Linked DNA regions of Homo sapiens. The protein of the gene in region 2 interacts with the protein of the main gene of each other region in a pairwise test. Each region holds a gene or a part of one and is shown on either strand. Other genes may lie near its edges.

Region 1 (7,027 bases), on a different chromosome or scaffold from region 2:
TGCACAATGTGCACTGCTTGTATAGCTTAGCCTGAATCCTGATGGTGACTGACAGGGAGGTATAATTTGGAAAGAATAAGGACTGTCAGAGAACTGGCGGGGGAAATTTTGGAATAGTATTTTAAATAATAGGGCTACATTGGGTTCCATTGTACTCCATTACAATGTAGCTGAGAGTACTGGGAGATTATTATAAAAGTTTTTGTATGGTTTTATGCTTTAACTTGTAGATTTGTAGTTCATTTTTGCCGAGTCCCAGCACTTAGAAAGAATATAACATTCATTAACAGTAAGCACTAGGGTAGCAATAGTTTTTCAATAGGGAGACACATTTATCCCATTCCTTGTATCCCTAGAGTATATCAGAGTTTCCCAGTAAGAGTTCCTACCTAGGCTCGGATACAGACTTCTCAAAAGATTCAGGTATGCCCCATTGGGTGGCACATCACCTAGATGTTGGGTGATAAAGAAATTCTGGAGACTCGCATGGGGTTGCCAACTTCTTTTTCCAGATAAGACCACTGCCATCTGTTATTACCTTCAACACGGAAAAGACATTTTCACACCAAAAAAAAGGGCATCTCAGAGTAAAAGAGGATCCTTCCCACGAAAGGATGTTTGTTAGCCTTACATGTGGCAGGAAAACTGCAACACTACTGTATTTCCTGAGATTCTTGGGCTTTTGGGACCTGATGCCATAGACAGTGGGAAGCCATGAAAGATTTCTGATGTTACTGTTTTTAGTTTTATGCATAAAGATTATTTTCCTTTCCTAGAATTAGGAAATGCTGAAGCCTTAGCATGACACTATTTTCTTAGAGTCACTGGTTAAAAATGTTACAAGAAAGTAAAGTGTATAGAGTAAGGTATAAATATTGCCACAATCATATTTCTGAATCTACTTGATTTTACTTAAAGGTGGTCTTGGCTTTCTAAAACAATTTTTTAAAATGAAATGATGTCATTTGCATCTCTGATTCTACCTTTTTCTTTAGAAGCTCTATTTTCTCTTGGCCCAGAAGAGCTTGGTTTGTTTGAAGATAAGGATAAACCCGATGCAAAGGTATTTTTATTATTATTATTATTATACTTTAAGTTTTAGGGTACATGTGCACAATGTGCAGGTTAGTTACATATGTATACATGTGCCATGCTGGTGCGCTGCACCCACTAACTCATCATCTAGCATTAGGTATACCTCCCAATGCTATCCCTCCCCCCTCCCCCCAACCCACAACAGTCCCCAGAGTGTGATGTTCCCCTTCCTGTGTCCATGTGTTCTCATTGTTCAATTCCCACCTACGAGTGAGAATATGTGGTGTTTGGTTTTTTGTTCTTGCGATAGTTTACTGAGAATGATGATTTCCAATTTCATCCATGTCCCTACAAAGGACATGAACTCATCATTTTTTATGGCTGCATAGTATTCCATGGTGTATATGTGCCACAGTTTCTTAATCCAGTCTATCATTGTTGGACATTTGGGTTGGTTCCAAGTCTTTGCTATTGTGAATAATGCCACAATAAACATACGTGTGCATGTGTCTTTATAGCAGCATGATTTATAGTCCTTTGGGTATATACCCAGTAATGGGATGGCTGGGTCAAATGGTATTTCTAGTTCTAGATCCCTGAGGAATCGCCACACTGACTTCCACAATGGTTGAACTACAGTCCCACCAACAGTGTAAAAGTGTTCCTATTTCTCCACATCCTCTCCAGCACCTGTTGTTTCCTGACTTTTTAATGATTGCCATTCTAACTGGTGTGAGGTGGTATCTCATTGTGGTTTTGATTTGCATTTCTCTGATGGCCAGTGATGATGAGCATTTTTTCATGTGTTTTTTGGCTGCATAAATGTCTTCTTTTGAGAAGTGTCTGTTCATGTCCTTCGCCCACTTTTTGATGGGGTTGTTTGTTTTTTTCTTGTAAATTTGTTTGAGTTCATTGTAGATTCTGGATATTAGCCCTTTTGTCAGATGAGTAGGTTGCGAAAATTTTCTCCCATTTTGTAGGTTGCCTGTTCACTCTGATGGTAGTTTCTTTTGCTGTGCAGAAGCTCTTTAGTTTAATTAGATCCCATTTGTCAATTTTGTCTTTGGTTGCCATTGCTTTTGGTGTTTTAGACATGAAGTCCTTACCCATGCGTATGTCCTGAATGGTAATGCCTAGGTTTTCTTCTAGGGTTTTTATGGTTTTAGGTCTAACGTTTAAGTCTTTAATCCATCTTGAATTGATTTTTGTATAAGGTGTAAGGAAGGGATCCAGTTTCAGCTTTCTACATATGGCTAGCCAGTTTTCCCAGCACCATTTATTAAATAGGGAATCCTTTCCCCATTGCTTGTTTTTCTCAGGTTTGTCAAAGATCAGATAGTTGTAGATATGTGGCATTATTTGTGAGGGCTCTGTTCTGTTGCATTGATCTATATCTCTGTTTTGGTACCAGTACCATGCTGTTTTGGTTACTGTACCCTTGTAGTATAGTTTGAAGTCAGGTAGTGTGATGCCTCCAGCTTTGTTCTTTTGGCTTAGGATTGACTTGGCGATGCGGGCTCTTTTTTGGTTCCATATGAACTTTATTTTCTCTTGGCCCAGAAGAGCTTGGTTTGTTTGAAGATAAGGATAAACCCGATGCAAAGGTATTACATCTATGATTTACTGGGGTGTTTTAGCGTATTCAGAAAATTTTTTTTAAAGAAGGAATTAAGTGGCTTGTTCACAAAGCAATAATTTTATTAATTATCAAATATGCTCTTTATTTCCAGAAAGTGACTTGGCCTATACCCTATGGGTAATGGAATTTGCCTTCCGAGAAAGAATCAGTTTTCCAAGTACAATACTGCTACTGCTTTATAAACATGTAACACTCTTTACTATGCTTATTCTTTCTTCTGGTGAAGGAAATATTTGCAGAACATCCACATTAGCTTCCCCCAGAAGTCTATTTAAAGCACTTTTTTTGCAACAATACCGACCTCTCCACCCCACACAAAAAAAAATAGAGGCTAGTATTCTTTCAATTTGGTACTCTGGAAATAAATTGAGTAATGAGTTAATTATTTTGTTTGTTATTGTGGTGATATTTAAAGTGCATATCTAATCATGTTCCTCCCTGCTTAAACATAACTCAAAAGTTTCTTACCATGTTCAGGCTCAAATTTGTACTTCTTAGGAGTCTTTCATGATCTAGCCCAGTACTTCTCAGGCTACCTGTGTGGCAAAGGACCTGTTTTTGTGTATTTCTTTTTATTCCCAATCTGTTGCAGATTAGCACTTTTCTAGTATATAATAAAAATGCCATGGGAATGTCAAATTGCCATTACAATTTCTAAATGCTTATTCTCCTTTAAATACTTAAAGTCTAGCCTACAGACCAGACTCTGAGCAACATTGCTCAGTCTGCCCCAGCCCTCACCACATCAAGTAAGGCAGGAACTCACTTGGAGCCAGGAGAAAGTGAGGCAGGGTGTGCTGAGAACTCCAGAGCGAGATACAGTATTGTGCCTGGAAAATTTCTACAGAGGGGAAATTGTGTGTATCAGAGGTATTTTAGAGAAATAATGGACTATTAGAAGAGATTCAAACTACTGTCAATCTGTAATCAGTTGAGTGGTTTATTAAGGCCTATTTGAGTTTTAATGTTTGTCTGAACCATATCAAGGTAGAAAACTCCAAATAACTATTATTTTTTAGATTGCATTATAATTTTCACAGAAGAACTGAATCATAATTAGTTTTTCCCTTATAATAGGATATTTATAAACTTTCTCCTGAATGAACTGGGAGATATAAAAAAGCTAGTATGCAGTTGTTTTCAAAAGCCTTAGTCAACACTTAAAGAATTCATTTAGAAATGTGTTTGTTTCTCATTCAGGTTCGAATCATCCCTTTACAGTTACAGCGCTTGTTTGCTCAGCTTCTGCTCTTAGACCAGGAAGCTGCATCCACAGCAGACCTCACTGACAGCTTTGGGTGGACCAGTAATGAGGTACGAGGATCAGCTCTTTAAGGAAGAGTTACCAGCAATAGAGGAAAGAATAAGGCTGGTTTAATGTTATCTAACTTCCTTTAATTTTGTCTTAGGGTCTCAACATATTGTTTGAATGTTTCCTTCTCACATTAAAAAATTACAAGCCAGAAATATATATTTTTAGACACTTGCTGTATACAGGATTTTATGAATGGCTGTGATTTGGGGCTGGGGAGAAGATTGGAAAAACGGGGAGAAGTACAAGAGCTGATTTTTACAATTTCTACCCTAAGAGTCTTTATGTAGTCTAGTTGAGATACAACACCGATTACATGGAGATTACCTACCATTTATATAGGAAACTGTTGATCAGTTTTTTAGTCTTTGACCAACAATAATGGATCAATTACATTGTAAGTAAATTTTTAAAAATTCTTTGTTTGTTATGTGCTTTGTGTTTGAATCCACATGTTCTGATTTGAAGGTTTGCTTCAGTCAAAAAAGTGAAATGGTTCTTGGCAGGTCTTTTTATTCCTGTCCTGACTTTCTCCTGACCTTCTCCATTTTCTTTATGAATCTTGTTGTATGTGGGCTTTCTCTCACTTTCCTGTTTGAGTTCTAAAAGGCATTCTACTGTATACGAACACTACACACTTGTCAGCAATGAGTAAAGGTGCTTGTTGCACATATTGATGAGCTGTTATAGCTATACAAATCCAAACAAATCCCAGTCTACCATTTTTATATGGAATAGATGGATGTAATCCTGCAAAGACAGGTATAGGCAACTGTCACAGAAGTTAAAGAGCAAACGATAGGAATACTGTTATATTGCCTTTAATGGTAAACTCTGAAGGGTAGTCTTCTAACCAGGAACACTTCTTAACTAGGTGATACTAACTATGTGATTAAGGAGGTAAGGCATGGACTTTCAAGCAAAATGGGGTATAATACATTCCCTAAACAAGTATGTTAAATTTCTGGTGTAGGGCTGGTATTTGGCGTTAATCCGATTAACAACAAAAACAAACAAACAAAAAAAACACTGTATTGAGATGTAATTTACATGCCACAGAATTCACTCTTTTAAGTGGTACAGTTCAGTGGTGCTTTCTAGCATATTCACAGAGTTGTTCAACCATCACTACAATCAATTTTAGAAAATTTTTACCACCCCAAAAAGAAACTCCATACCCGTTAGCAGTAACTTTCCATCCCCCTCAACTCAGCCGCTGGCAACCACTGACCTCCTTTCTGTCTCTATGAATTTGCCTATTCTGGACATTTCATAGAAATGGAGTGATCCAATAGGTGGTCTCGTAACAGTCTTCTTTCACTTAAAGTACTGTTCTCAGGGTTCATTCATGTTGTAGTATGTGTCGATACTTCATTCCATTTTATTGCCAAATGAGATTCTATTAGATGGATATGCCACATGTTTTTTGTTTTTTTTTTTTAATCTAGTCATTGGTTGATAGATTTTTCTTTGTTTTTGATAATGAGCTTCACTAAGTTGCTGGTTTCTTCTTAATGCTGTGAAAATTTTTTTTGTTTTTTGTCTAAATAAGATCTTGCAGAAAACCCTCTAGGACTGGACCTGCAGTGGTAGGAGAAGGTCTCTGTGGTACCTTTGCGAAGTGTAGGATTGTTTAGGAACAGAGCTTGAAAACTTCCACAAGTTTTCTATCCCATCATAGCCAGTGATATTAGATAAATTACATCCTTGAGGGTCTTGTATTTTAAAAGGCAAGATAGAAGTCCTCCAGCTTTCATCCACTTTATCTGCTGCTCTTCACACAAAACTTTTTTTTTTTTTTTTTTTTTTTTGAGATGAGGTCTCACTGTCACCAGCCTGGAGTGCAATGGCATGATCATAGCTCACTGCAGCCCTGGGTTCAAGGCATCCTGCTGCCTCGGCCTCCCAGGTAGCTGAGATTTTAGGCATGAGCTATTGCTCTTGGTTGAAACTTATTTTTGAAATTGTCTTCCCTTATTGCCTCTGCTTCTGAACTCTCCATTTGTTCCTCTCCTTCCTTTCTACTTTTTTGGTTGAAGTCAACAGTGACATCCCTGTGCCAAGTCCAGAAGACACTTCTCTGTTCTCAGCAGAAGGAGCTCTCAGCAGCACTCACCACCCTCCTTAAAGCCTCAGCTCCTCCTGCTTCCTGGGGCCTCACTCTCCTGGCCCTCCCCCCAGCTGCTCTTCCTCCTCTTCTCCACTTCTCAGTCTTGGTGTGCCCCTTGGTTTGGTTATAAATTTTTCTTAAGCACAAGTTCACACACAACTGCGTGACTCATAATGGATTAAAGCAAGTTCCATCAGGATTTTTTTCTCAGTAACACTGTGTTAGTCTTGTTTTAGTTGTTTTTACTTCAAAGCAGTACATTCTAGTTCTTTTCTATTGTTGATAATTCGGACTATTCACATGTGCTCTGATCTCAGTGAGGTGTTCCTGTGCAGACACTGCCAGCTCTTAGACACTGGTCTGTGCCTGGTATATCCCTCTCTGCTTTCTGTGGCATGGCCATGTGTGTGGTTTCCCACAAGAATAAATGCACATTCTGGGTGTCAAAGGAATTGAGTTACATGTACACACTGAACCCAGCCTGTTCATATTTTCATTTTTTAGTATAAATAAAAATAGGTGGTAATCTCTTAACCAGCTCAGCTTGTTTTGCTGAGTCATTCTTATATCTGATCTTCAGATTGCTTGATAAATCTTGAGTTTTTATTGACTAATGTTTGTTTTTTTAATGTTTTAAAAAATCTGAAGCCCGGAATTACATCTAAAAGTTACCTGTTTTGTAGGAAATGAGGCAACATGATGTGCAGGAACTGAATCGAATCCTCTTCAGCGCTTTGGAAACTTCTTTAGTTGGGACCTCCGGTCATGACCTCATCTATCGTCTGTACCATGGAACCATTGTTAACCAGATTGTTTGTAAAGAATGTAAGAACGTTAGCGAGAGGCAGGTAAATATGCCAGAGTATTTTAGTAATAAGTTATGTTGTAAATTATAATCCATGTAATTAAATGTATGATATATACCACACAA
Region 2 (7,027 bases):
TCCGGCGCGGCTAAACTGACAGAGCCTGCCAGACAGTCATAAAATTATAATTTCTTAAAAATACTTTGTAGCTACTTCAAAATTAATACTAATGCGAAAGAAAGTTAGTATTTCCCTTAGAAGTAAACACAAAACATTCACTGCCTCATTAATTCAAAAGCCATCATTCGCGGGGCTTCCCAGAATCGGTGTGCCAGCTCTGCTGCCGCCCCGGAGCCCCGGCTGGAGCAGCTATGGCCTCTTCTTCCGCAGCAGCTGCCCGTTGCCTTCTGGCCTGCTCTTGGCTTCTGGCTGTGCGAAGTTCCAGTCCACCGGATTGAGAAGCTGCTGAGTCTTCTTATGGGTCCAATATGGATTAATGATTAGCGTAAGCAGAGCCAGTCCGACAAGGAACAGTGTCAAATGAGGCAGATACAGGCTGCTGACCAGGCCGTCCCAGTGCCAGAAACACACCCACCACATGTGGTAGGTTAGAACCATGCGGCAGTGAAACATGTGAATCATCAGCCACTGGTTGAGCTTCCAAAACAGAGACTCGGACCAGCCCGCCTGCATGGAGAGAAGACAAATGCACAAGTCAATGCGAAACTGCCAAAATTCATTCTTCACATCACAAAAAGGTATTTGCTACCTTACTTACCAAACAAAACAAATTCATTTCAAAGCAAAAGAATTTCCTCCCCAGGGCTCTGCTCTCATTGGGACTTCATTCTGAAAGGAGGCCACCAGCTCTGTGGGCGCACCTGGGCCAGCAGGGCTGACCCTTGCCCGCTCATGCTGTTTTCCTGCTCCTCTTGCTCTTTGGCTTCTGCTCCCTAAAGCTATGATAAATTCAACCTTTCTTTCAGTATCCCTTCAATCTTTGTTTTATCTTGAATTTTCTCATATTAAGTAAATAAACAATACTTATTTGGCAAAACCAGACACAGGTATATCAAGCTCCCATACCTAGACCCTGGGAAGTGATGAGGTCATGGGGGTAAGGCCCCATGATGAGATTAGTGTCATAAGAAGAGAAAGAGACCAGAGCCTTCCCCTCCTCCATGCTAGGACACAGCCAGAAGGTGGCCATGTAAACCAGGAAGTGGGTCTTCACCAGACATGAATCTGCTGGTGCCTTGATCTCAGACTTGCAGCCTCCAAAACTGTGAGAAAGGAATTTCTGCTATTCCAGCTGCCTAGTCTATGGCAGTCTGCTGTGGCAGCCTGAGCTGACTAATACAGTATACCTCCCCGGCAAAATATTCTAACTTGGGCCAGGCACGGTGGCTCACGCCTATAATCCCAGCACTTTGGGAGGCCGAAGTGGGTAGATCACTTGAAGTCAGAAGTTTGAGACCAGCCTGGCCAACATGGCGAAGCCCCATTTCTAATAAAAATACAAAAAAATTAGCCAGGCATGGTGGCGCACCATGTAATCCCAGCTAATTTGGGAAGCTGAGTCATGAGAATCATTTGAACCTGGGAGGCAGAGACTGCACTGAGCTGAGATCGTGCCACTGCAATCTAGTCTGGAGAAAGAGCAAGACTGTCTCAAAAAAATAAAATAAAATAAAAAATTCTAACACGTTCTTCTGGTGTTTTTGAATATTTAAAGCCCCAGGTATATTAGCTGTTATAGACAGTCCCCTACTCACAATGGTTTGACTTACAATTGTTTGATTTTATGGTGCAAAGATGATACACACTCAGTAGAAACTGTACTTCAAGTACCCACACAACCATTGTTTCAACTTTCAGTAGAGCATTCACTGAATTACATGAGCTGTTCAGCATTCTGTTGTAAAACAGGCTTTGTGCTATATGATTTTGCTCAAACGTAGGCTGATCCAAGTCTTCTGGGCATGTTAAAGGCAGGCCAGGCTATATACCATGATGTTCGGGAGGCTGCACATTTCTGACACAATATTTTTAACTTATGGTGGGCTTATTGGGATGTAACCCCATCCTGAGTCAAAGAGCATCTATTCTAAGTCTGGACTGAAAAAATTAATGTGAGGACAATTAGAAGAGAAAGGCCAGCGGAATGGAGTAACCCAGCCTGCCTCATACAACTGTCACGGGAGTCCTTCCCAGGTCTCAGAGGGGACCTCAGGGCTCTCGCATGTGCATCACGGCACCCTCATGCACACACACGCCTTCAGAGACCGCCAGTGCGGCTTTCCACAAACATACCAAGCACTTAGTTCACCCCAACCCCAGGTGCAAATGAAACACTCCCACCTGTGGTTGGGGCCACCTCAAGGTGGGCCAGGACCACATGCTTCACCGCACTCAGCATTGCTGAGGCACAGTGAACACTCAGGAAGAAGAGCAGAGGAAGCAGGATCCAAAACAAGCCTGGAGCCTCCAAACTGAATGGGACAGGGGAGAAACCCACAGACCAGAAGAACCTATGGCTGTCAGTTCCGGATGGTTAAGTGACATGGGATTGAAATGAAATGTGAAGAGTTAATACTATAACTTATTTCTTACTTGTGAAATTATAGAGTTAGGCTACAAGTTCTTGGAGGTTTTTGATATGTCCAAAGCAAAAGTCACAAATATAGCTGGTTCTCAGACCCTGGGGTGACTGCAGATCCTGGTTTGCCTGGGGCAGTCCCTGACATCCTTGTCTGGGTGGTAAACAGTATAGTCACTCTGACAACTGGCCACAACCACCAGGTCCATAAGTGGTGAAGGACAATGCTGGACTTTGGCACAGGCAAGTTTTCGATCTCACACCTCCCTCAGACCCATAGCGGCAGTACCAGGTGGGCCCACACCCAGGTGAGGCTGGACAACTGCACCTACAGCAGTGCCCAGGGCTCAGCGCCTTTATTTCAGTCAACAACGCACAGTGTATAGACAGTGGTTCCACACAAGATTATAATGGAGCTGAACAATTCCTATCATTTACTATTTTACTATACTATACTTTTTATCATTATCTTGGAGTGTACTCCTTCTCTGATGAAAATAAAGTTAACTATAAACAGCCCCAGGCAGGTCTTTCAGGAGGGTCCAGAAGAAGGCACTGTCACCATAGGAGGTAGCAGCCCCATGTCTGTTACTGCCCCTGAAGTCTCTCCAGTGGGACAAGGTGTGGAGGTGGAAGACAGTGATATGGATGATCCTGACCCTGTGCAGGGCTGGATGAATGTGTATTTGCATCTTAGATTTCAACAATTTAAAAAAAAGTTTCGAAAATTAAGAAAAGCTTACAGAATAAGGGTATAAAGAATATATATATATACACACAATGTATTTGTGTTTTAAGCTAAGTGTTATTACAAAAGAGTGGAAAAGTTTAAAAAATTAAAAATTTATAAAGTAAAAATGTTACAGTAAGTTAAGGTTACTTTATGATTAAAGAAATTTTTTTATATAAATTTAGCATTGCTTAAGTACACAGAGTTCATAAAGTCTATAGGAGAGTACAGTGACGTTCTAGGCCCTCACACTCACCACTCATTGTGACTCTCGCAGAGCAGCTTCCAGTCCTGCAAGCTCCATTCCCAGTGAACGCCCTGCACAGGTGTGCCATTTTTCATCTTTAACATGGTATTTTTACTATACCTTTCTATGTTTAGGTATGTTTAGATACACAAATATTTACAGTTGTGTTACACTTGCCTACAGTATTCAGTACAGCCATATGCTGTACAGGTATGCAGCCTGGGAACAATGGGCTTTGTCGCATAGAGCCGAGTGTGGAGTTGGCTTAGACATGTAGAAAGGTACTCTATGACGGCCACTCGATGACAAAATAGCCTAAGGACACATTTCTCAGAACACAGCCCGTCGTTAAGCAACGTATGACTGTACATGGAACGGTATCACACGCTGTGTACTCTTTTGCGTCCGGGTAACGTCTCTCACCGTGTCTGTGTAAACCATCCAGACTGCTGCCCACCCTTCTGCTGCGTGGACAAACTCAGCTCACAAGCCCTTTCCACTGATGATGGGACTTCAGTAGGACTCAGTCTGAGGCCAAATGAACAGCGTGGCTAAGACAATCCAAGTACCCCTGTTCGAGTGAACATGTGGGTGCACTGCAGTCAGGCACAGACCTATGCATGGAGCCGCAAGGACACCAGAAGTCTCACACGCTGTTTTCCTTTGCTAGTTATCAAACTGAAGACACTCAAGCATTTATCAAGTAAACAAAGAGCTGACAAAAACCAAAGGAAAGACAATGCTCCTTCTGCCACGCAATGGACTGCAGCATCGCTACACAAACGTGCGCCCCTCACAGAGTCCAGATTCCAGAACCTTCTGTCATCACGTGTGTGTGTGTACTGGAGCAAGGCCACACACACATCTGCCCGCACAGATTTCACCTTCCAGAACCTTCTATCATCATGTGTGTATATTGGAGCAGGGCCACATGCATATCCAACCCTCACAGATTTCACCTTCCAGAACCTTCTGTTATCACATGTGTGTGTACAGGAGCGGGGCCACATGCATACCCAACCCTCACAGAGTTCACCTTCCAGAACCTTCTGTCATCACATGTGTACTGGAGCATTACCACACATACAGCTGCCCCTCACAGATTCCAGCTTCCAGAACCTTCTCTGTGAACAGAAGCACAGTCACATGCAAGTATCCCCCTGACAGATTCCAGCTTCCAAAATCTTTTGTCATCATTTGTGTGCCGGGGCACTGCCACGCATGTGTGCCCCTCACAGATTCCAGCTTCCAGAATCTTCTGTCATCATGTGTGTGGAGCACCACCACCCACGTGTGCCCCTCACAGACTCAGCTTGCAGAATCTTCTATCGTGTGTGCTGGAGCACCACCACACACGTGTGCCCCTCACAGATTCAGCTTCCAGAATCTTCTGTCGTGTGTGCCGCACCACATGCATATGTGCCTCCCACAGATTCCCACTTACGGAAGACTGAGAATCGTCTTTGTTATGACCCGGCACCTGGCACAGGGCCTGCAAGAGTGCTCATTGCTCCTCAAGAGAGCGTACAGTATCAACAGGAGTGAAAAGAGTGTGTGTCTGAAGACAAAACACTGAAGAGTCGATGTTCTGAACATCAGAATCCTCTACAGTAGCTGGAAGGCCCCACACAGTGATGAACTGTACAGTACACTGTGCACTCAGCCCCAGACTCTCGCGAGCTCAGTCTTTATTCACTCACCATTCCCTCACAATTCACAAAAAGTTCTCCTCCACCATTTTCCTCACTTACTGAAAGTAGTCATCTTAAATTACCAATAGTAATATCAGAATGCAATCACTACCTTAAGTTTAGAAAACTCAAAGCTTGAGAACCGAAGAGTTCTTTGGTTTTACTAAGGCACTAAAATTTTTGTAGTCAAAGTCACCAAAGGCTTTGAGAAGAGTAGCAAAATCTACAGGAACAAAATCTGTGACATAACACATGCAAAGCTCTGGAGCCCGGCAGTTACATCTATACTTAAATATACAGTCACCCTCAGTATCCTTGGGGGACTGGTTCCTGGGCTCCCTGCAGATACCCAAAGCCACGGATGCTCAAGTCCCTTATATAAAATGGCTTTGTATGTGCATATAACCTAAGCACACTGTCCCTTACTCCTTAAATCATCTGTAGATTACTTATAATACCTAATACAATGTAAATGCTATATAAAATTGTTACATTTTATTGGTATTTATTTGTTATATTTTTTATTGTTATATTATTTTAAATTTTTCCCAAATATTTTTGATCCACAGTTGGTTGAATCCAGACACAGAACCCATGGATACAGAAGGTCGACTGTATACATACATATATATACACACACATGTATATATACAAAATATATAAAAACTGACAGCGGGTTGTGTTTTTGTTTGAGATAGGGTCTCACTCTTGCCCAGGCTGGAGTGCAGTGGCGTAATCACAGCTCACTGTAACCTTGAACTCCCAGGCGATCCTCCCACCTTAGCCTCCCAATTGGCTGGTACTACAGACGTGTGCCACTATGACCAGTTAATGTTTGTATTTTTTGTGGAGACGAGGTTTTGCCATGTTGCTGGTCTTGAGCTCCCGGGCTCAAGTGATCTGCCTGCCTTGGCCTCCCAAAGTGCTGGGATTACAGGTGTGAGCCACCGCACTTGGCCTGACAGTGCTTTTATATCACCTCATTTGTATTATGAACTAGTGAGTCTGTGGATAAATAGTAGAACCAAATCTAAGACAGAAATACGAAGAATAAGCCACTGTGCTTGACTTAGACCCCCATCCTAAATTGATGGTAATATTTTGTCTTTACATCCTTTAGTTCTGATCAAATCAGACCTTGATGGGGGAGAAATGTTGAATCCTCATGCCCTACTACTATGCAAGAATCTATCAGCTTTAAAAGAATTTCAAAGAATTTCAACATTTTAGACATAGTGTTTTCTTACTGCATTTATTAGTATTTCAACTAGAGCAAAATAGAACTATGTAGACATACTGGCCCTGAGCTATATTAATTTAGGTTATAATTTTCTCTTATTAGGGTCTGTTGGCTTTATACAGTTAACATGAGCAGGGTTAGAAGTAAATACTTAAATAACCCTTTCTCCATTCTACACAAACAGCACCCTAAAAGCTTTAGAGAATGTGCAAACTTCAAAATAAAATCTCGCTGAGTCTGTCCTCCTGGAGGCTGGGCTCCACCACCACACCAGGGGAGGGAGAACTGCTGGAGACGCTGTCCCCACACCTGGCTCCAGGAGAAGCACAGATAAAACCCTGGAGAAATCCAACACTGCTTTCCCCTGAGGACTGGAGAGACAGAAAGACTCACGTCTTTCTTGTTGTTTTTAAAGAACTTGTAATAAAAATAAAATACAAGATAACTATTAATCTATTTCTCAAAATACACTAATGACCTCAAGCACACCATCTTGTGGGATGTATTAATAATTTAGTCACTATTTACCACTTGGGACATTGATGTGGTATTGATGTTTAGGGCATCGATGTGAGTGAGCGCCTCTGCTTTCCTTTCAAGAACTTTATTTTCTGCCACAGCCGAGTGACTCCTGAAGTCCGGTGTTTCCAGGTGAGAG
Region 3 (7,027 bases), on a different chromosome or scaffold from region 2:
GAGATGGGGTTTCACCATGTTGGCCAGGATGATCTTGATCTCCTGACCTCGTGATCCGCCCACCTTGGCCTCTCATGTAATTCATGCCTGGGATTACAGGCATGAGCCACCGCGACTGGCCTTTTTGTCATTCTCTTAATCTTATCAAATTGGGTCAGTGCTTATGGTGCGACAAGGATCTGGGAAATTACTCCTCTATGTAGCTGGTGGAAGAGAGAAAAATCTACTTACGGTAGTGCTTCTTCAGTCTTCCTAGACATAAGAGAATGGTGTTTTCTTCTCTCTACCCTTTAGAAGCCTGCTGCTCTAGGTTTCACCACAATGTCCTTGGCTCAGAAAATTGTGTTGAGATAATTGAATATGACTTTAGAATTCACATTGATCTGAGCTTTTCGTTTTACAAACGAGGAAACTGATTTATAACATTGGGCTTGAAGATATTAGATATAATTTTAATTTTGAGCAGCTTTATAAATATTCTATTCAGGTATTACAAAATATTTCCTTTTTCCCTAAAAAGTCCGTCTTTTGTGTTTATATGTATATAAATATATTTATTTATTTTTGAGACAGGGTCTTGATCTGTCCTCCAGGCTGGAGTACAGTGGCACAATCCTAGCTCACTATAGCCTTGAACTCCTGGGCTCAGGTGATCCTCCTGCCTCAGCCTTCCCAGTGTTGGGATTCACCAGATGTGAACCAAGGTGCCCAGCCCTACTTATTTATTTTAGTGGGGAATTAAAGCCTTAATGAACCTTGAACTTGAGGAACCAGTTTTATTTAAACAGTTAATTTCCATGAGTTTTGAGCTAAAGTCAGAGTAGACTTAACAGCAATTTGTTTTAGAACCTATAATACCAAAACTCACAGCAATTTTGTTGTTTGCCAGTGTATTCTAAGCTTTTCGAAGAAAAAGAAGCATGCATATTAATTGCTTGGTAGGGGTTATGCTGGAAGAACTTTGGATTTGATTCACCACTTGTAACTAAAATCATAGTATTGCAATTATTACTTTCCAGGCCAAAGATTGAGAGCATTAAAATCTGGGCATGGACATAACCAGCTAGATATGCCTCAATACCTGAAGGGATAAATTAAAGTCAACTATAAACTGTAAGCTTTTCACTTAAGCATCCATTAGCTTTAGTCTAGTGCTTAGCTGTGGAAATGAAGACTGGGGGGAACTGTGCCTAGGGGAAGGGTGGAGGTGAAGGGAGGTTATGTGTTAATAGAACTTTTTTCATTTCAGTTTAAAAACAAGCGATTTGGTTTATTTCCAAATTTGGCTGAGAGTCCTGGCTGCTAAGAGCTGTGCCTTCAACATCTCTTTGATTATTATGTATTTGATTAAAAGTGGGGTCACTATGGTTTGCATCTACTTGGCTATCAGTATCCTAAAGGGAGTGTATGCCTCTTTCTCTTCTCTTTCCTTTAATGGGTTAGACAGGTTGGTCTTTTTTTTGCGTCCCCAGGGATGGATTGATCTTAAAACAGGCACATTTTGCAGTACTTAGTTCAAAGAACACCATATGTTTTAAGTTATTTATTGTTTAGAAATTTTTACATTTCAGCATAGTACGGTTTTGGCTGTCTTTGTTCTCTTTCTTCTTCAGTTGCTTATTACCTTTTTCTAAGGCTCACCCTACTTAGCAGAGATCCAGGGCTTTTGATTGTAAAAGAGGCTAAAAGCTTTGAAATTTAGAGAATCCATTTATATGAAGTATATGATTTTTACTCTAATTATAGATTAAACATCATAATACATATATTATGCTGTGATGCTCTCATATAAGCCTTTCAAATTATCCCTTTTAAAAATAGTAACTACATTTTTTGTCTATAAATCATTGGTATTTATGTAGCTAAAGCATAAAAGACCATGAACATTTTCTTGATGGAATTCAATTATTTCTCGGTTACTGTAGTGGAATATTTATTTTAAAAGGCAGCATTATAAATTAACTTGATGCACATACTACCATCGCTACCACTCCTACCTTCCGAATCTGTAGATAGTAACATTTGTTGTATTTTTCAAAGATTGACTTGTAACTCATTTTAATTAATCGGATCCTTACTAGACTAGTTGAAATGTCCCAGATAATGATAATCATTAAAGTCTTAAAGAAGTATAGAAGTATGTTAATATGGTTTCTTTAAAACCTTTCGTTTGCCATTTTTCTTGCCTACAGACTAATTTCTTTCAGGTTTGGGGCATGTATTCATTTGCATGACAGTGTTTTGGATATATGAAATTAAAACTCATTTCATGGACTGCTCTAAAGTATATTGGGGCCAATGTGATTGGTTTCTGGAAATTCTTGGAGATTATTGAAAACGGTGGTTAAGCAGAGCTAATATTCCATGTTCATACCCTGATATACTTCTACATTTTGCAAAGATGGTATTTTGGGCAGCAGCAACCTATGCTAAAGGGTTATTGTCCTCTGGCAGTAAGTTAGCAGGCCTTTTGTACTATACAGCTGGTTAATGGAATCAATAACTCGTTTGATACTTGAATTGAGTAAAAAAATTGTAATAACAGCTTTATCGTGATACAATTCACATACCATACAGTTTACCTATTTAAAATGTACAAATCAATGGTTTTTAGTGTATTTACAGAACTGTGCAGTCTATTTTAGAACAATTTCCTCACTCCAAGAAGAAACCCCATATTCATTAGCAGTCGTTTTCCATTTCCCCACAACTCGTCCTCCTCACACCAGCCCTAGGCAACCACTACTAATCTACTTCTAACTCTATTGATTGTCCTGTTGTGAACATTTTATGTAAACAGATTTATATAATATGTAGTCTTTTGTGTCTGCTTTCTTTCACTTAGGATAATGCTGTGAAGTTTGTAGCATATATCAATACTTCAGTACTTTTTATTGCCAAGATTTGTTTTTTAAGATTATTTTATCATTTTCTTTCCCTTGACTCCATTTTTTCTCTTTTCATTGTGAAATCAATTCTAAGGTCTCCTGTCATAATTATTATGATTTCAAGGAGTGAACCAGTATATTTTTGTGATCTACAAGCAATCATCTGTATGATCTAGAGCATTTCACAGTTGATCTACATGTTAGAAGAGCTTTTTGGACTTTAAAAAATGTTTTTAGAAAGTGTGATGTTAGCTATTGCCAGTGGCAAGCCCAGCTGAACCAGGTACATCATCATGACCACAGAGTAGTCCATTTCAATATAGTTTGTATCATTAACATTTTTTAACATCTAAAAAAGTTTAGGTCATTTCTATGCTTTCATTAGTGATTCTTCACTAGGAAGGAACCTAGTGAAGTGCCAGTATGTTATCAGAAATAAAATTCCCAGTCTATCCATTGCTTATATATTTGTAAACACCAAAATGCATGAAAGATGAAGTTCTGGTATCAGTTACAGGGTTGACATAGCTTGATCAAGAAAATGTACATGTGCTATGTTAATCTTCTTTCTTTTTGTTTGTTATTTTTGAATTTTTTTTTTTTTTTATTTCAGGACCCTTCAAAAAATGATACATGCAAAAGGTTAGTATCTCCTTAACAGCTTTCCATACGTTCAAGGTAATGTCTGGCAAGAGACTCTTCCATAAGTATATGTATGTAACATAACTTATGAGTGCAGTTTGACAACTAATTCTTTTTTGGCCCAAATCATTGCAAATTCAGTTGTTCCTTGACATTAGAAAAATTAACTTTTACAGTTTCAGCCATTTTGAATAATCTAAAAGTTTCATGCCTTGAGTCATTTTTTAATCTTATTGTGACATAAATTGGAATCACACTCAGTAAGAGGCCAGGATGCATGGACAGGTAGCTACTATTGGGTCAGCCTTTAGTCCCGAAGTTCAACCCAGCTACATGATTCTACTTAAAACTTAATCGCATTTACTTCTCACAACCACTCTGTAAGGTAAGTGCTATTATTACATATTGCAGGAGAAAAAAATACTACGGTCATATTTAGGAATTTGGGTTTTCTCAGGTTTATTTACAATATATTCCTTGGCATTAATATTAGTAATTCATTAGTATTAGCTCTGAAAGTTATAAATTGCCTTACCTTAAGTGCCTCTATCTAAAATGACTGTGGAATCCTTGGCTTGTACAGTATCTTTGTGGAGATTATATAGAGCTAGCCATTCTATTTTTTGGACATCTCGAAGTATTTCAGAGAAAGAAAATATGTCTTTTTTTCCCATAAAGTATCAGATCTATTACTTGAGGTAACGGACACAGTATAAAAAATTACAAACTATTAGTAAATTTAGTTTCCTTAATATTAAGGGCTTAGGATCAGCGAAATGCTGCATAAAAATTTTGAAAATACAAGCCACAAAATTGCAGATTTTAAACAAAACTTATGCTTATGCAGGGCCGGGCGCGGTGGCTCACGCTTGTAATCCCAGCACTTTGGGAGGCTGAGGCGGGTGGATCATGAGGTCAGGAGTTCGAGACCAGCCTGGACAACATGGCGAAACCCCATCTCTGCTAAAAATACAAAATTAGCTGGGCATGGTGGTGCGAGCTTTGGGAGGCCAAGGCAGGAGAATCGCTTGAACCTTGGGAGGTGGAGGTTGCAGTGAGCCAAGATCGCTCCATTGCACTCCAGCCTGGGCAACGAGAACGAAACTCCATCTCAAAAAAAAAAACCAAACCTTATGCTTATGCTATAAAACTTAGACTTAAGCAAAGCATAAAACTGATAAAGAATTATTAGGTAGAAGATATAAAGAATTCCTACAAATCAGTTTTTTAAAACCTCAGTAGAATATGAGAAAAAGATTTAAGCACTTTACAGAAAAGGAAACACAAATGTAAACATATGGAAATGAGGTTTAATCTCATTCATCATTAGTGATATGTGAATTAAAATCATAGGTATATTTCATACCTAACCAGATTGGTAAAAATTAAAAATTTTGCAAATAAGAGTTGGTTGGAAAGTTTATCACCGACTCTTAAGCACTCCTAGGGTAATGTAAATGAGTATAATCACTTTGGAAAACAGTTTGGCATTATCTAGTAAATTTGATAGGATGACTTAACTTTTGACCCAGCAATTCCATTTCTAATGATATACTTGATAGAAATGTGTGCCCAGGTACACCCAGAAATATATGCAAGAATGTTCATAGCAGTGTTATTCGAGATATTCAAACATCAGAGACAACCCTAATAAATTGTGGTATATTCATACAATGGAATACTACAAAACAATAAAAATAAAGGAATCACAAACATGTAGTAGTCTAGATGGATCTCCAAGAAGAAAAATCTGTCTTATGGTAGGAAGTTATTGTTGAACCTGAATCTCCTGTGATGCAGTATAAATGTATTTCCTCTGGTTCTCTCCTCAGTGGCAGTTAAGTATTAGGAAAGATTATGTGAGGATTGGTGTCAACCATTCTCAGTCTTTTGTACTAAAGAAATTTTCTGGCCGGCGTGGTGGCTCATGCCTGTAGTCTCAGCAAACTGGGAGGCCGAGGTGGGTGGATCACGAGGACGGGCTGAGACAGAAGAATGGCGTGAACCCCAGAGGTGGAGCTTGCAGTGAGCCAAGATCGCGCCACCGCACTCCGGCCTGGGTGACAATGAGACTCCGTCTCAAAAAAAAAAAAAAGAAAGAAAGAAAGAAATTTTCTCCTTCAATGTTTTCTCAAGGATCCTACTTTTGGATTCTTCAGTCTCTTGCGGTTACTCTTCAAGGAGTCTGAATTCATTACTCTTATCAGGAGATTACTTCAGAGTTCCCATGTGCATATTGCTGTTATACGTGCCATATTGCTTGGTTTTGTAAACAAAGCTACCTGGCTGATATTCTAAACTAGTCCAGAGTAGCTTTCTGCTGTACGTAAGCATACAGAGTGCTAGGCATGTTTAGGCAAAGAGAATCATTTTTCTTATGAACTTCAGCTCGTTTTATTGACTTCAAAACCTTTTAATACCAAGACTCATATGTCTTAAGTAGAGGGGCAGCCGGGTCATTTGGATCATGGAAGAATTATACCTTAAAACTAGTGTGCTAATAAGTTCTATTAAAGAATTATTATGTTAAGGAGAATGATGACTGTTCTGAAGCTCCTAAGGAAGGTCTCTTGCAGTACTTTTGAAGCTGCCATTTGCTTCACCCTGTTAGAACTGTATATGCTTTGTGTGTATGTGTATCCTTATTAGTGTCCAAACTTAACTAGGGATTAAGAGGATGGGTTTGGAATCAGACTGTCCAGCTGCCTTTCTAGCTTTGGGATTTGGGGTGCAAAGCTTATATTTCCCTTGTATGAGATGAGAATAATAACCCTATTTCGTAGGTTATCCTATTTCATAAGGATTAAATCTTTAAAATACATATGAAGCAGATAGGATATTTCTGGTAGTTATATTAGATATGATTACTTCCAAATTTATATTGGGATGGATATGTTTTTATACATATATGAAATGTCACATACATAATGGTGTTTTTTCCTGTTTAAAAATGTTTAATTGTAGAATACGTGAAAAGCAAAAGCACAATGAAGAAAATGTGAGAGTATCCATAATCCCTAACTCAGAAATAACCACTATATGACTTTGTAGAAACACATATAGAGGCATTTAAAGACATCTTATTTGATATCATACTATTGGTTGTTTTTAACCTTTTAAAAAATTACTTTGTAATATTGTCACTCCAATTCAAATATTTTTCCCCAACTACTTTGTGATAAAAGCAGTTAAATTTCCCAAAGTAAATAAAAACTCCTTGCCTATATAAAAACATGTGAAAGCTGAAAGATAGTGAACATTTGGCTTAAAATATTAACAACTTTATTGCTTTCTCCCCCTATTCCTAGTTGCTGGGCATATTGGATTTTACCCATCATAGGCGCTGTTCTCTTAGGTTTCCTGTACCGCTACTACACATCGGAAAGCAAATCCTCCTGAGGAGGCCTTGCTGAAGTTAGAAAGTGCATCCACTTTGGGGCGAAAACTAGAGACTTGCTTGGGGGCTGCAGAAGTGCCCTCTCCTCGAATCCTGCCAG
Region 4 (7,423 bases), on a different chromosome or scaffold from region 2:
CTAGTTTTTTGGTTTTTTTTTTTTTTTTTGAAGAGACGAGCTTTTGCCACATTGCCCAGGATCGTCTCGAACTCCTGGACTCAAGGGATCTGCCCACCTCGGACTCTCAACTTGCTGGGATTACAGGCATGAGCCACAACACCTGGCTCCACAAATTCTTAAAGTTCAACAATAAGAAAAAGACATAAGATCCTAAATGTGTACACACCAACAATAGAGTCTCAAAATACATGAAACAAAACCTGACAGAGCTGAAAGGAAAAATAGATAAATTTACAATTATAATCAGGGATTTCAACAACCCCTTCTCAAAAATTGATAGAACTACTAGACAGTACTACTATAGAAAACAAGCAAGGATATAAATAATCTGAACATAAACAACAGGATCTAGTGACATACATATAACATTCCACCCAACAAAGCAGAATACACTTTTTTTTCCCAAGTATCCACAGAACATGACCAAGATAGCTCGTGTCTTGAGCCATAAAACAGGCCTCAACAAATTTAAAAGAACTGATATCACAGAGAGTTTGTTCTCCAATCATAACAGAATAATGGAGTCAAAATAGAACTCAATGCAAAGTCAGAGAGTCCAGGACAGTCCAGATGCTACTGGGTTAGTGACAATAAAAAGAATACCCTCTGGAAACTAGACAGAAAGTTCCAAAACTACTCTCAATGTAGCTGAAACATTTTATATCTGCATTAAAATTCTTTTCCATAATGTACTTTTATATTTCAGTAACAGCAAATGAAAAATGTTATAGACATAAAATGGATTTCAAAACACATCTGTAGTAAGCTGACTTACAAACCAACTTTTAAAATACCACATATTAAATTGAGGCTGTAAACTTATAATTTATAATGAAATGAAAACTTTACCTTCCAATGGAATGTCTAAAAGATTGGCATGCTTTGTTTTCACATGAGTTTCCATATCTTCACTGTGCTCCTCTATTTTTCCACAGAATGGACATTCAGGAGGACTGTATGTTGTTTCATAAACAGATCCTTTTATTTCGGTCAGGCTGGACTGTTTTTCCCTACTTTTCAGGAATTTTCTAGATTCAGTTAAGTTCTCTGAATAGAAGCCTTCATGTTTTAAAGTACTATCTTTAGTCAGGTTTTGAGCTGAATTTTTTGGATGATTAGATGCACAACCTGAAAGAATACTTGAATTAACTTCCATTCCACACTGTAGGGTGTTGTCTTTCTTGTTATCTGAAGTTCCATATTGTACTGTATTTATCCTCTCAAAGTTTCTTTCAAGTGTATTCTGCTCAAAATGAGCTGTTTCGATATGAAAACACATTTCATCATAATTCACACCTGACAACTTGCAAAATGGACATATAATTTCACTTTCCATGTGAACAATTAGGTGAGCTTTCATGTCTGGTTCTGAGGTTACTGTTTCACCACAAATATTACAGGAAAGCATGGTATTGACAAGTAGCTAGAAAAGAACATAACATTAGGTTTCAAAGATTTGAAGAAAAAATGTGTTTCATAAAATGATTTGAGACAATTACTTGGTCTTTAACGCTGGATTATTTTGATGAAGAAGTTTTCAATGTACTTACTGTTCCTCAAATACAAAAACTTATTTATAAATATCAACCAAAATTTCATTTATTTTTTTTTAAAAAAAGGCAATAATAATGAATACAAGTAATTTTAAAAATAAAATATTTCAAAAAATGTCTCTGGCCCAAGGTGGAGAAAAAATAACGTTTAAAAAATTGTCCAGGTAAGATAAATCAGGTAAGAAAAAAATGAAGAGAAGAAACCTATTTATCAACTGATATATCTAAATACTGAATACTGAAGCTGATTATATTGAGGAGGTAAATAAACACATCTTACAAGTAGAGTTTAACACTGTAAACTTAGAGTCTTACATGTATCAAGTGCTATTTAAGTGCTATTATTGTAATTTAAGTACTATTATTATCGCTCTACACATAAAGAAATTCTGGCTCAGACAGGTCACCACAAGCAGAAAAAGGTGGAAGCCAAAATGCCAACCCCGTCGTGCTCCACAGCCTGTACTCTCAGCCCCAAGAATAAAAGCAGAAGTGGTATAGTAGAAAAAAGCACTTATTCCAGAGTCAAGAGAACTGGGTAATAATTTCAGATTCATCATTTTGGGTAAGGAATCTCATCTCTCTGAGGTTCAGTCAAAGACTACTGTAAAATCCAAAGGTAGTTATTTTTGGATTTTATGGACAAATAAAGTACTGACTACTGACATAAAAGTGTTAAAAAAATAATTTTAAAAAAAGCAATCACTTCGCCACCACCTTCCTACTACAGGTCATCGTTCAGCTAAAGACTATTTAAAATCAAACAGGAAAAGTAATGACACTATCACTTCATTTAAATAAATTTACCTTTAAAATACCTCCCTACATTGTCCTTATTTTTTTCATTTCTCTCCAGACAAATGGATACAGTCTCTGATTTTAGAAGGCAGTTCTCCCGAGCCCCCAGTGGGATTAATGTCACACCCGGAGTTTCTTCTCTTCCGGTGGCTGGGACACGGTCAGACACAGAATGATGAACTTGGACATGGACTCAGATTAAGCGGGTAAGAGACAAGAGAGTACCCAGGTGCCTCAGAGGAAGCGAGTGAGAGGCATGAAGGACCCAGTGCCAAGCTAGGTACGTGGTGGGTGAGGTCAGAAGACCGCAAGGCCGAGTCTCCCAAACGTTCCGCGCCAAAGGCACAAGCCAGGCACACGAAACTAGCAGGCACTAACTGGGTCAAAGCTTTGGGCCTGGGGAATAAGGGAGGGGACCATCAATTCTTACCGGCCCAGAGGCCAGCAGCTGCCACACTGAGCTCCGCTAGGCTTCCCCTTTGGGCCTCGCTGGCAGACGAGTGCGTGCGCGGCGTCCAGTACCTCTCCTGGCCTGATGACTGAGGCCAGGCCTTCCCAATACGCAGAGTTTCACAGTTAACCGAGGAAAGAATTAGGAACTTCCAACACCTTGGCCCTCAGTACCTCATTCAAAAGCACTTCCTTACTCCCACGGAAAAGAAGTAATCCCAGAATGCGCCGCTCCACGCCGGTCTCTATGCAGTGCATTCTGGGAGATGTAGTCTTTTTTTTTTTTTTTTTTTTTTGAGACGGAGTCTCGCTCTGCTGCCCAGGCTGGAGGGCAGTGCGCGATCTCGGCTCACTGCAAGCTCCGCCTCCCGGGTTCACGCCATTCTCCTGCCTCAGCCTCCCGAGTAGCTGGGACTACAGGCGCCCGCCACCATGCCTGGCTAATTTTTTGTATTTTTAGTAGAGACGGGGTTTCACCGTGTTAGCCAGGATGGTCTCGATCTCCTGAGAGATGTAGTCATTTTTGCATTCCTCCCATTTCCGAGTTTTTCCTTCTCCCATCGAGTTTCCTGCCACTCAATTGCTAGGAGAGAAAACCGGGCTCTGAGGTCATTCATACTTAATCTGAATGAGTTCACAGGGCAGGTCCTGGGGCAAATAGCAGTCTACACTAGGGCCTGCTGAGTAGCACTCTATTTTAGTATCAATAAAGGGTTTATAATGCTGCTAGGTATCAAGCTCCCAGCTATGCACCGAAGGTAAAGGATACCAGGTTCTTTCCTCAAGGTTACAAGATAACAAATATCTTGGTTTGTATGTATGTATGTATGTATATATATATATTTTTTGAGACGGAGTCTTGCTCTGTCGCCCAGGCTGGAGTGCAGTGGTGCCATCTCTGCTCACTGCAAGCTCCGCCTCCCGGGTTCACGCCATTCTCCTGCCTCAGCCTCCCAAGTAGCTGGGACTACAGGCGCCCGCCACCACGTCTGACTAATTTTTTGTATTTTTAGTAGAGATGGGGTTTCACCGTGTTATCCCGGATGGTCTCGATCTCCTGACCTCGTGATCCGCCCCCCTCGGCCTCCCAAAGTGCTGGGATTACAAGCGTGAGCCACCGTGCCCGGCCGTATGTATGTATTTTTAGAGAGGAGGACTCTTTCTGTCACCCAGGCCAGAGCACAGTGGCTAAAATAGCTCACCGCAGCCTCGAACTCCTGGCCTCAAATGATCCTCCCATCTCGGCCTCCCAAAGTGTGAGCCACCATGTTAGCCCAAAATCACAAATATCTTGTCATTCAGGCTTTATTTCATTCAACAAATATTTAAAGAGTGTCTATTAGAAAGGCGTTTTGCTTGCAACAGGAGCTGCAGCAGTAATCAAAATACACAAAATTCAGGATTTTTGAGGCTTACATGCTGGTGAGGTAGAGGAAATAAAAAGTAAATTAACTGATCATGATAAGTGCTATGAAGAAAATAAAACTGGATTGGCCAGGCTCAGTGGCTCACATATGTAATCCCAGCACTTTGGGAGGCCGAGGCGGGCAGATCATTTGAGGTCAGGAGTTCAAGACCAGCCTGGCCAACATGGTGAAAGCCCGTCTCTACTAGAAATACAAAAATTAGCTGGGCGTGGTGGCAGGTGCCTGTAATCCCAGCTACTCGGGAGGCTGAGGCAGGAGAATTGCTTGAACCCGGGAGGCGTAGGTTGCAGCGAGCTGAGATCGTGCCACTACACTCCAGCCTGAGTGACAGAGCAATAGATTTTTGAGACTGAGTCTCAAAAAAAAAAAAAAAAAAAGAAAGAAAGAAAGAAAAGAAAACTGGATTATAGAGATACGAATGTTTAGAAAAGGTCTTGATGAAGGGTTGAGTGTGCTGATGAACAAACCTTACACCAACAGGGGAAATAGCATTTCAGACAGATAAAATAACAAGAACGAAGGCCTAAGGCTGGAGCAAAAAGAACACTTTTTGACCAGAGCATAATGTGGTAAGGAGAAAAATGATTACAAGATGAGGTTAGGGTTGTAGACAGGGGCCAAATCATGTAGGACCTGGTAGAAAACTAGTGAGGTATTTAAATAGGAGGGTGATGTTATCTGATGATAAATAGTATGTTTTTAAAAATTGGCTAGGCGCGGTGGCTCACGCCTGTAATCCCAACACTTTGGGAGGCAGAGGCGGGCAGATCGCATGAGCCCAGGAATTCCAGACCAGCCTGGGCAACATGGAGAAACCCGTCTCAACCAAAAAAATACAAAAATTAGCTGGGCGTGGTGATGTGGCCTGTAATTCTAGCTACTCGGGAGACTGAGGTGGGAGGATCACCTGAGCCCCAGGAGGTTGAGGCTGCAGTGAGCCATAATGGCACCATTGCACTCCAATCTGGGCGACAGAATGAGAACCTGTCTCAAAAAAAAAAATCGTTCTGGAAATTTGTGGACAAACATGGAAGATTAAACATGTAAATTTATATTTCTCTGCCTCTCAAAATCTATTAAAATGATAGCAGGAAAATAAAAATAATACTACTAACAGCTAATGAGATTTTACAAAACTTTGAAAGCTAAAAAAAGATGAATGATTAATAACGAACTTAACTCAGAACCGATGTCAACAAAAACCAAGTCAAGTCATACTGTCTTGACTTGTATGGGTTTCTGCTTGCCCAGCACAGCAGCTGGGGTCTGCTTGCCCAGCACAGCACAGCCAAACACTGACACTGGGATAGCAGCAAGAGAAAGTTGAGGCATTTATTGTAGGGCACCAAGGAAGGAGAATTGAGTAGCTCATGCTTAAGACCTGAACTCCCACATTGCTTACAGGTAAGAGTTTTTAAAGGTGAGGAGGCAGAGGTTACAGGCGACGTCATAAATCAATACACGGAAGCTATACGTTGGTTTGATTTTAAAAGGCTGGACATCTTGAAGTGGTTCGGGGCACAGGTTACAGGTGGATTCAAAGATTTTCTGACGTTTGATTTGCTAAGGAGGCAAAGCTTTGTCTAAAAATTTGGGATCAGCAGAAAAGAATATTAGCTCTCGCTCAGGGGTGTGATCTCCTCCAGGCCCCTCAGGAAGAAATTCAGAACAAAGAACAGCGATCAGGATTTAGTCTTCAGTTTCCCATTATCAGGGGTCAAATCATGTTGGACAGTAGATCTGTTTGGTGGGGGATCTGGGTTTCTGGAAAACAACCCAGGGACATATGTTAAAATGTTATCTTAAGTTTCTATAGGGAATAAAACATCTCCTGACTTTTTTGGGCCAATGTTTTAAGCTACTATTACCTTTTTGTTTATCAAATTGCTCATTTATTTCTCAGCGCTAGCTAGGTTCCTGGAATTTTCCTTGAAGGAACTCAATATTTTCCTTTATTTCCATGCTTGGGGGTTGCCCACGGGCCCCTAAGTAGGGTCCCTACTCCATCTTAATACACTCCTCCTTCCCAGAAATCTGAAAATTCCAGAAATTAAACACAAGATACTTCTAAAAATGATGGTGACATTTGGAACTAAATAAAGGATCATTTTACTGAAAGTCTGAATAAGGAACAGTTAGAACTCCAACTCTAGATTTTCTCCATCACCAGTGTGATGGTTAATTTCTCCTGAAACATTATTTCTTATTATTTCCCAGGAAGCTCCCGCCAAATGAGGGAAGAAGCAAAGAAAGTGGAAGGTATGGGGCCAGGCATGGTGGCTCACACCTGTAATCCTACACTTTGGGAAGCCGAGGCAGACAGATTGCTTGAGCTCAGGAGTTTGAGACCAGCCTGGGCAATATGGTGAAACCCCGTCACTACCAACTTGACTGAATTGAGGGATGCCTAGATGGCTGGTGAAGCATTGTTTCTAGCTGTATCTGTGAGGGTGTTTCCAGAGGAGATTGACCTGTGAGTCAGTGGACTGAGAGAGGAAGACCTACCCTCAGTGTGGCAAGCACCATACAGTCAGCTGAGGGCTAGGCTGGGGCAAACAGGAAAGAGAGGGAATTCTCTCTCTTTGCTCTCTCCCTTCTGGAACAAGACACCTTTTTCCTTCCTGCTTTTGGACATCAGATTGCACCATATTCATCTTTTAGACACTGGGATTCGCACGAGTGGCTTCCCAGGAACTCTTGGGCTTTTAGCCTCAGAGTGGGGGCCAAACCCTCTGCTTCCCTGGTTCTGAGGCTGCTGGGACTGAGCCACATTACCAGTTTCTCTGGTGCTCTAGCTTGCAAGATGGCCTATTGTGGGACTTCCACCTCTGTGATCATGTGTCAATTCCCTAATAAATTGCCTCTCGTATATAGTATTGGTTATGTCTCTCTGAAGAACTCTAATACAGCTAGGTTGCCATGAGACTCCTCTTTCCCTTCCAGATAGAAGACTACAGATTTAGTTCATGAAGAAAACGAACCAAAAAAACCAGCTATGAACCCTATCCTGGGGGTTCAAAGGCTTGACCCTATCCTTAGGGTAAAGGCACTGGACTGAAAATGGGAAATAGGGAAGGCTAAATACTAAATTATGAACCTCTTGCTCCTTTTCCCCCATCACATCTTGATATGTGATTTCTGCCTCCAAGGCAG

Evidence for each region.
Region 1: the proteins of CLN8 (region 2) and USP40 interact in a two-hybrid assay, tested with the Homo sapiens proteins (one study listed by BioGRID).
Region 3: the proteins of CLN8 (region 2) and CYB5B interact in a two-hybrid assay, tested with the Homo sapiens proteins (one study listed by BioGRID).
Region 4: the proteins of CLN8 (region 2) and ZUP1 interact in a two-hybrid assay, tested with the Homo sapiens proteins (one study listed by BioGRID).

Annotation. Positions count from the first base shown.
Region 1 is NC_000002.12:233,556,772-233,563,798, reverse strand, and holds part of USP40 (ubiquitin carboxyl-terminal hydrolase 40), read left to right. Parts: intron 1-995; coding exon 996-1,063; intron 1,064-2,532; exon of another isoform or gene 2,533-2,639; intron 2,640-2,765; coding exon of another isoform or gene 2,766-2,795; exon of another isoform or gene 2,796-3,056; intron 3,057-3,874; coding exon 3,875-3,988; intron 3,989-6,779; coding exon 6,780-6,944; intron 6,945-7,027. UniProt on the Homo sapiens protein: May be catalytically inactive.
Region 2 is NC_000008.11:1,773,772-1,780,798, reverse strand, and holds part of CLN8 (protein CLN8), read right to left. Parts: exon of another isoform or gene 5,603-7,027; intron 550-5,602; coding exon 232-549; 3' UTR 1-231. UniProt on the Homo sapiens protein: Could play a role in cell proliferation during neuronal differentiation and in protection against cell death.
Region 3 is NC_000016.10:69,455,592-69,462,618, forward strand, and holds part of CYB5B (cytochrome b5 type B), read left to right. Parts: intron 1-3,501; coding exon 3,502-3,530; intron 3,531-6,838; coding exon 6,839-6,929; 3' UTR 6,930-7,027. UniProt on the Homo sapiens protein: Cytochrome b5 is a membrane-bound hemoprotein functioning as an electron carrier for several membrane-bound oxygenases.
Region 4 is NC_000006.12:116,665,743-116,673,165, forward strand, and holds the start of ZUP1 (zinc finger-containing ubiquitin peptidase 1), read right to left. Parts: upstream 3,025-7,423; 5' UTR 2,824-3,024; exon of another isoform or gene 2,403-2,823; intron 1,466-2,402; 5' UTR 1,451-1,465; coding exon 892-1,450; intron 1-891. UniProt on the Homo sapiens protein: Deubiquitinase with endodeubiquitinase activity that specifically interacts with and cleaves 'Lys-63'-linked long polyubiquitin chains. Shows only weak activity against 'Lys-11' and 'Lys-48'-linked chains.